Linked DNA regions of Homo sapiens: all the other regions are linked to region 1. Evidence: fine-mapped expression QTL. A gene starts in region 1. Each other region holds a variant in brackets. All regions are shown on one strand. Distances are between the middles of the regions. Region 1 holds the start of C11orf21 (chromosome 11 open reading frame 21). Region 2 overlaps SLC67A1 (solute carrier family 67 member 1). Region 3 has its middle 45 kb from the start of ASCL2.

What was found.
Region 2: its variant is fine-mapped to the expression of C11orf21 in lymphoblastoid cells (GTEx, PIP 0.97).
Region 3: its variant is fine-mapped to the expression of C11orf21 in whole blood (INTERVAL, PIP 0.91).

The regions. Positions count from the first base shown.
Region 1 is chr11:2,300,919-2,303,590 of GRCh38, forward strand. It overlaps C11orf21 (chromosome 11 open reading frame 21), which reads right to left and starts at 1,000. Exons shown (of 4, transcript NM_001329958.2): 1 at 838-1,000. The coding sequence starts at 890. It overlaps TSPAN32 (tetraspanin 32), which reads left to right and starts at 1,095. Exons shown (of 10, transcript NM_139022.3): 1 at 1,095-1,297; 2 at 1,926-2,040. The coding sequence starts at 1,232.
Region 2 is chr11:2,908,483-2,911,280 of GRCh38, forward strand. It overlaps SLC67A1 (solute carrier family 67 member 1), which reads left to right. Exons shown (of 11, transcript NM_002555.6): 4 at 714-874; 5 at 1,096-1,228. Among named protein-coding and RNA genes, the nearest start is that of SLC67A1-AS, 6.3 kb to the left of the region's middle. The variant A/G (reference allele first, on the strand shown) is at 1,127.
Region 3 is chr11:2,224,327-2,227,124 of GRCh38, forward strand. No RefSeq gene overlaps it. Among named protein-coding and RNA genes, the nearest start is that of ASCL2, 45 kb to the right of the region's middle. The variant A/G (reference allele first, on the strand shown) is at 1,380.

The DNA.
Region 1 (2,672 bases):
GCCACACCTAGGCCCCCAGCTGAAGTGACACTGTGGGTGCCAGGCATCTGAGGTCTCCACAAGCCCCCACAGACTCAGGGTGGGAATTCCTGGGGGCCAGAGCTGCAGAGGGTGCTGCCTGGGGGTGCTGGGCTGGACGGGGGTCCTGGTTGTCCCTCCTGGTTCTCCTGGTTCTCCCTCCGCAGAGGGAGGGAGGCGGTGGCCTCAGCAGTTCCTCCAGCAGCGTTCCTGAGCGGGCGGCAGCTGGGCCCTCTTCCCACAGCCACGCTGGGGTTGCCATGCCTGCAGGTCTTGGGGCCCCCTCCCCCTTGATGAGGTCCTGACCAAATGCAGGAGGAGCAATTCCAGCACCGAGGGGCGAGCAGAGCCGCCTGTTAGCACTCCTGGGAGGGCCCGGAGTGGTCCCTGAATGATGGATTCACCTGGAACATTTTCACCCTCTTCAGGCCCACCCTGCCCCAGAGGCCCACGGAAACCCTGCCTGTACTGGGGCCGCAGCGCTGCCCCCACCCATACGTAATTACACGGCTCGGTGTAATTGCAAATTCGAGGTTTACAAAGCCTCCCCCTGGAGGCCCCACGTGAGTGTGAGCGAGGCCCCAGCCCACCCCTGTGGCCCCAAGAAGGCTCTGCGACAAAATATCCATGAGTGCCGCCCACGAAGGCATTAAAACCAACGACCTTCTCAAAACTTAAGCTGTCACAGGACATTTCAAAGGGTGTTTCCTAAGAACACCTCAATAATGATGTTCCAAGGAGACCCCATCCAAATTCCTCCAAGGATTACGCCCCCAAGGCCCAGTCCACACTTGCTCACTCCCAGGACGGGGAGCTCACCTCCTCCTCCCCGGGCGCCGTCTCCTCCACATCCCACACCAGGTCCTGCCCATGACTTTCCCCCTCTCAGCGCCGTCCTCAGTGGCCACACCAAGAACGAGGCCATGTCTTCCTGGGAAGGGCCTCAGATGTCAGCAAATGCCCTGGTGTCTTGGGCTGGGCTGGGGGCACCAGGGTGAGGTGGTGGGGGGAGCCAACCTCACTGCCCCTCCCCTTCCTGCCTGCCCTTCTTCCGGGGCACCCAGCAGCTCGGTCCTAGGGCGATGTTGACAGACAGACAGAGGGGCGGATGCAGCCTACCTCCTGGGCAGTGAGCTGCGGTCTGAGGCCCCTGCCCAGCTGGAAACCACAGGGAGGGGAAGGGAGGGGAGGAGAGGAGAGGAGAGGAACCGTCATGGGGCCTTGGAGTCGAGTCAGGGTTGCCAAATGCCAGATGCTGGTCACCTGCTTCTTTATCTTGGTAACAGGCAGGTCGGGCAGGAGTGGGTGGTGGGTGGGGGTGAGCAGGGGTGAGGGGTGGCAGGGCCTCAGCACAGGGATTATCCCTCCCCTGACACACACACCAGCCCTACTGTCCCTGTCCTGCCCTTGCAGACATGTGTCCTGCCCTTGCAGACAGCCGCAGGCAGGCAGGGACCACCATGAGCAACCCCGTCTCTCCTCCTGAGGGGCAGCACAGAGCCTGGAGGAGGCCTGAGTGGGGCTGAGGCCTGGGGCGAGCTGGGGTGGAGGGGCACTGGCTGCCGGGCTCCAGGGATCTTCTCCCCTTCCTGCCCCGGAGGGTGCTGGCACAGGGGTGGGGCTCACTCCCACTCCGTAGACACAATGATCAGAGGTCCTGGGTGTCTGGGGAAGCTGGGCTGTGCGTGTATGCGTCTACCATGTGGGGGTGCCTGTGAGTGTGCTGGGGCGTCTGCAGTGAAGGCCTCCTGAGACCACTCCACGGAAACACCGGGAATCCCTGCAGCTGAGCCTGTCTCTCACGGGACCGGGAAGCTGGAGAGAGCCCCAACCCTGCCCGCTGGGGCCGAGCTCCCTGCTCCTGCAGCAGTCCCATGCCCCACACTCTGAGTCTGCCCTATCCACAGCTGCTGGGCCTCTCTGTGGCCACCATGGTGACTCTTACCTACTTCGGGGCCCACTTTGCTGTCATCCGCCGAGCGTCCCTGGAGAAGAACCCGTACCAGGCTGTGCACCAATGGGGTAAGTGAGGTCCAGGCCTGGCTGCATCGGGAGGGGCCTCGGGTGCAAGGGTGGCTGGCACGAGCCCAGCTGGACGCCTCACAGCCAGAATGGTGCCAGGCCCTAGGCAGGAGCCAGAGGTGGTCAGGGGCAGGGAGGGGCTGCCCTGGAGTCCTAGCTCCCCTGGGCAGGGCCTCGGGTCTGGGTGACAGCCAGTGTTCCTGCCTGGTTCTCGTGCCCCACAGGAGCGTGGGCACAGTGTGGGTATATGTCGGGCAGGGTCAGGAAGTGGCTCTGTGCGGTCAGGACCTGGCTCTGTGCAGTCAGGGCTCAGTCCCAGGCAGGCCTGGGACTGGCCTGGGGCTGGGCACAGCAGGTCCATGAGGGCTCCACATGGCTGATGTTCCACTCAGGACCTGGGATGTGGGTGGGGAGGGGGTGGGGGCTGCTCTAGCCAGACGCCTCCCTGCAGGGACTCAGCAGCGACTTATCCAACATCCAGAGAGCGGGAGCGAGGGCCAGAGCCTGCTGGGGCCACTCAGGGGTAAGGCTGAGGAAGGCCCCTTTAATGAGGGGATGTCAGAGCCAGATCTGCAGGGGACTCTCAGGCAGGAGCTCAGGGGGCCCAGGAAGGCTGCAGCCCGGTGGGCAGA
Region 2 (2,798 bases), 610 kb after region 1:
GAACTTTGGCCCCTGGTAGGCTCCCGGGTGTCCCACCCACGCCTTCCACTACTCCTGCCTGTGGCCAGAGAGAGAGTGTGACTGGTGAACACCTCGTGGCTGTAAGCACCAGCCCGTAGGCCTGCCGAGACCAGGCAGGAGGGACTTTGGGGGCTCCATACACCCCGGGTCTCAGTGCTGTGGGAACACTGAGCTTGAGAGAGGACAGGGACATCCTCCCACAAGCCACAGCAGACAGGGGAGCAAGGGACACGTATTGGGAGTTGCCTCTTCAGAGCAACCCGTAGGCAGAAATGAAGGGTTCCGCAGGCAGCAGACCAGCAGCGATCTCTGGGAGGGTTTCCAGTGGCCCAGAACAGAAGGGAGAAAGGCGCTGCTTTCTCAGACCCAACCTGACAAACGCCTTCTGTAAAACGCGGGCCCACCCTTTGGTCCCCTGGGATTCCACCATTTATTTTTACACGGAGTTGGTCTTTGCCCTGGGTCAGACTCCCAGCTCAGTGAAGCTGTCTGCGCACAGCCCCACTGGGACGCTGGGGAAACTGAGGCCCTGAGAGGAGGGAGGCCTCCCAGCAGCCGCCCAGGCGCCCCCGCCCTCCATCCCCATCCCGCACTCCAGCCTCCCTGGTCAGCCCCGCCTGGGCAGCCCCTGGACGGGGGGAAGGGGACACTGACCGCCTCCGTGAGGGTCCGACCCGCCCCTCGGCCCCCAGGTTCGCAGACCAGCGCGGGGCGCGGGCGGCGCTCACGCTCTCCTTCCTGGCTGCCTTGGCGCTCTACCTGCTCCTGGCGGCCGCCTCCAGCCCGGCCCTGCCCGGGGTCTACCTGCTCTTCGCCTCGCGCCTGCCCGGAGCGCTCATGCACACGCTGCCAGGTAGGGCCGGGGGGACTGGAGTCCAGGTGGGGCCGGGTCGGGGGCAGCCTGCGGAGGACCCGGGACACCTCCAGGGAGGTCTGCGTGCGCGCGGGGTCTGGCCCTAAGGGCTGGACGGGGGTGGGGGGCGACGTGGGGCGTGGCTTGTGGAGGGGCGGGTCAGGGGGGGAAGGGCCCCACCGAGGGGCTTTCGCCGCTCAGCTCCCCCGCCCCGTCCCCAGCCGCCCAGATGGTCATCACGGACCTGTCGGC[A/G]CCCGAGGAGCGGCCCGCGGCCCTGGGCCGGCTGGGCCTCTGCTTCGGCGTCGGAGTCATCCTCGGCTCCCTGCTGGGCGGGACCCTGGTCTCCGCGTACGGGTGAGTGGTGGGGGCCGGGGCGGAGTCTGTGGGTCAGGACGCCCGCGGCTGGGTCGGCCCCGCCCCGCCTCCTCTTGGCCTCGGTTTCCTCTTTTGCTCGTGGGGCGCGAGTGGCCACGTGATGTGGCTACTGGGGACGTCTGGCCCCGCGCGAGGCCTAGGCCTGACCTCCCGGGCTGGCTGGCCCTGGATAGGGCCAGGTGATGTCCCAGTGCTGTCCGGGGCGCGACTGGACTGCCAAGCTGTCCACGCACAGCCCCACTGGGACGCTGGGGAAACTGAGGCCCTGAGAGGAGGGAGGCCTCCCAGCAGCCTCCTGCTGGGGACAGGAGCACCCTGGGACTGGGATGCTGTGGCAGCGGGGCTGAGCTGTTGGACGGTGCCCAGAGCACACCTCCCTCTCCGGAGGTCTCTAGGGCTGTGCTGCCGGCCTTGTTTGAGTCCCCGAACGTTCTCCCAGCATTTTCACTGGAGCCTGGGCTGGGGACTGATGGCTGCTGATGGCTGTGAGCAGGAGGTGGAGTGGGGTGGGGTGGGTAGTTTGAACACCTCAACATTGCCCCCAGGACTCTGGTTCTAGAATACAGCGGCAGACAACACAGGCTGAGTCCCTGGGATGAAGGGAATGTGATAGGAATTCCCGTAACATCAGGCTGAGCTACATGGAGCAAAAAGTCACAAAGTAGAACTGGGGGCTCGATGGATGGGATCACTAGGGCCTGTCTGAGGAGGCGGCATCTGAGTCGAGGCCTGAAGCAGGAGAGGGAGGCAAAGAAACCACGGTGCAGAGGCCCTGGGTGTGGAAGCCAGGGGGCCGTGTGGCTGGAGGGAGGAAGAAGGGGCAGGCACCAGGCCGGGGTGCCCTGGGTGGCACAGCAGGGGTGAGAATGGGGGGTGAGCTCCCCTGCAGGGAGACCGGTAGGACAGCCATTGTGCCGGCCGAGGTGGGGGAGGACAGTGGCTGGACCAGAGGGGACCGTGATGAGAGAAAGCAGAGGGTAGATTCTGGCTGGGTTTTGCCAGTGGGTGGGATGTGGGTGGGAACTCAAGATGGCAGTGCCAAGGCCGTGCCTGACCCTGGGGAGCCTGGCGCCTTGCGCAGAGGCCCAAGCAGCCTGGGGTGCCACTGGGATTTGGGTCTTGTTCAGGCCCAGCCTGGGTGCCTGTCAGGCACTCCAGGGAGCTACTGAGTAGGCACCCAGATAAGGGGGAGAAATGGGGTGCATCTTCAAGTGTGGATGGCTCGGAGCCCTGCGCCCCCCAGCACTTCATGTTTCGGGGCTGGGAGGTGAGGAGGGAGCACGTCCTGGGAGCCAAGGGCCACTGGATTTGTGGGGGTCAGGGACCCGTGCCTCTACCGCTGGTGGCCAAGGAAGCCACAGTGGCCCACCATCTGCAGCAGGGAGGCCACCCCAGTGCTGGACCAGCACCACCCCCTCAAGTCAGTGCCAGCCGCAGAAGCCTCATGCAATAGACGGATCAAGGGAAATGGGGAGAAAAGAGAGGGGGTCGGGAAGTCGTGCTATAAATGGGGGCAGAGGTGGGTCCAGGAGGCTATGCTCAGGGTGGG
Region 3 (2,798 bases), 77 kb before region 1:
CAGAGCAACCAAAAACTGAGGGAAATTTAAAAAATGTAACATACTTGTAGTTGGAATACCAGAAAGAGAAGAAAAAAGGAATGGAGCAGAAGAGATGTTTGCAGTTATAATGGCTTAGAACTTGGCAAAATTAATGATAGACATCAAACCACAGATCCAGGAAGCTCAGAGAACACCAAGCAGAATTTTTTAAACATTAAAAAACCCTCAACTACACATAGACATATTATATTTAATCTGAGAAGACCTAAGACAACAAGAATTCTTGAAAGACACAAAAGGAAAAATACCGCATTACCTAGAGAGAAATATGGATAAGAATTACAATGACCTCTTGTCCGAAAACTGCAAGCAAGAAGACAATCAGATGAAATAATTAAAGTGTTGAAAGACATATACTACCAACCTAGAATTCTATATCCAGTTTTATATATATGTGTGTGTGTGTATATACATACATGTATGTATATGCACATATATGTATATATACACATGTGTATATGTGTGTGTATGTGTGCATATATATTTACATATAATTTTTAAATTATATAAAAATGATTTTTAAAGCCCTGAGAGGAACAAGGGCCACAAGTATGTTCAAAGTGTTGATGATACATGTGTCCTGCAATTCACATTAATTCTCACAGCTCTTAGGCTATCATTAAAAAAAATTTTTTTTCAGCATCAGTCTCACTCTGTTGCCCAGGCTGGAGTGCAGTGGTGTGATCATAGCTCACTGCAGCCTTGACCTCCTGGACTTTGAAATCCTCCTGCTTCAGCCTCCCAAGTAGCTAGGACTATAGATGTGCTGCACCACACCTGACAATGTTTTTATTTTTTATTTCTGTAGAGATGAGGTCTCACTATGTTGCCCTGGCTAGTCTTGAACTCTGGGGATGAAGTGATCCTCCTGCCTCTGCCTCCCAAAGTGCTGGGATTATGGGTGTTAGCCATTGCACCCAGCCTATATACAGTGATAGGCTGGGTGAAGAGAAAGTAAAGACTTTTGCAGACAAACAAAAATGGAAGGAATTTATCACCAGATCTGCCCTACAAGAAATGCTGGGATTACAGGTGTGAGCCACCACACCCGAATGAAATGTTAAGATTCTTTTTTAGACAGAGGAAAATTATAGGTCAGAAACTTGAATCTGCATAAAGAGAAAAGGAGCATCAGAGAAGGAATAAATGAAGGTAAAAGTAAGATCTTTTCTTATTCTAAATCAATGTAATGATAACTATTTGTTTCAAATAATATTAGTAAGAATGCATTGGGTTATTACAGCATATGGGTAAGTAAAATAAATGACAAGCATTATAAGGGATGGGAGGAGGAATCGGGACTTTATATAGTTTGGTATTTGTTCCCTCCAAATTTC[A/G]TGTTGAAATGTGATCCTCAATGTTGGAAGTTGGGCCCAGTGATAGGTGTTTTGGTCATGGGAGTGGATCCCTCATCAATGGCTTGGTGCCCTCTCTGCAGCAGTAAGTTTATGTGAAAGCTGTTTATTTAAAAGGGTCTGGCACCTCTCTTGCTTCCTCTCTTGCCATGTGACATGCCTGCTCCCTCTTTGCCTTCTGCCAAGGGTAAAACCTTCCTGAGGCCTCACCAGAAGCAGATGATGACATCATGCTTCTTATACAGCCTGCAGAACTATTAAACCTCTTTACTTTATCAATTACCCAGTTTCAGGCATTCCTTTATAGCAATGCCAAATGGACTAACACAGGACTTATCTGTGCTACTAATGAAGTGAAATGGTGTTATTTGGAGATGGACTTAGGTAAATTTAAAATGTATATTGTAAATGCTAAGGTAATCACTGTTTATCTGTTTATCAACAGAATAAACAGAAAACCTACAGAATGGGGGAGATATTCTCAAACTATGTATCTGACAAAAGTCTAATGTCCAGAATCTATAAGGAACTTAAACAATTTGATGAGTGAAAAACAAATAACCCCATTAAAAAATGGGCAAAATTGGCTGGGCGCGGTGGCTCATGCCTGTAATCCTAGCATGAGGATTTGGGAGGCCGAGGTGGGCAGATCACGAGGTCAGCAGATCGAGACCATCCTGGCTAACACGGTGAAACCCCATCTCTACTAAAAATACAAAAAATTAGCCGGGCATGGTGGCAGGCGCCTGTAGTCCCAGCTACTCAGGAGGCTGAGGCAGGAGAATGGCATGAACCCGGGAGGCGGAGCTTGCCGTGAGCGGAGATTGCACCACTGCAGTCCAGCCTGGGCAACAGAGTAAGACTCCGTCTCAAAAAAAAAAAAAAATGGGCAAAATTCAATAACAAATACATCTCAAAAGAAGACATACAAATGGCCAAGAAACATGAAAAAATGCTCACCATCACTAATTACCAGAGAAATGTAAATCAAAACCATAATAAGATACCATCTCACATCAGTCAGAATGGCTATTATTAAAAAGTCAAAAAATAACAGATAACGGCAAGGCTGCAAAGAAAAGGAACACTTATATACTGTTGATCAAAATGTAAATTAGTTCAGCCACTGTGGAAAGCAGTTTGAAGATTTCTTAAATAACTTAAAACAGAACTACCATCCCAGGCAACAGTCCCATTACTGGTTATATACCCAAAGAAAAACTAATCATTCTACCAAAAAGTCACACGCATTCATATGTTCACTGTAGCATGATTCACAATAGCAAAGACATGGAATCAACCTAAGTGCCCATCAAGGGTAGATTAGATAAAGAAAATGCGGTACATATACACTATGGAATACTACACAGCCATAAAAAAGAACAAAATCATGTCCTTTGC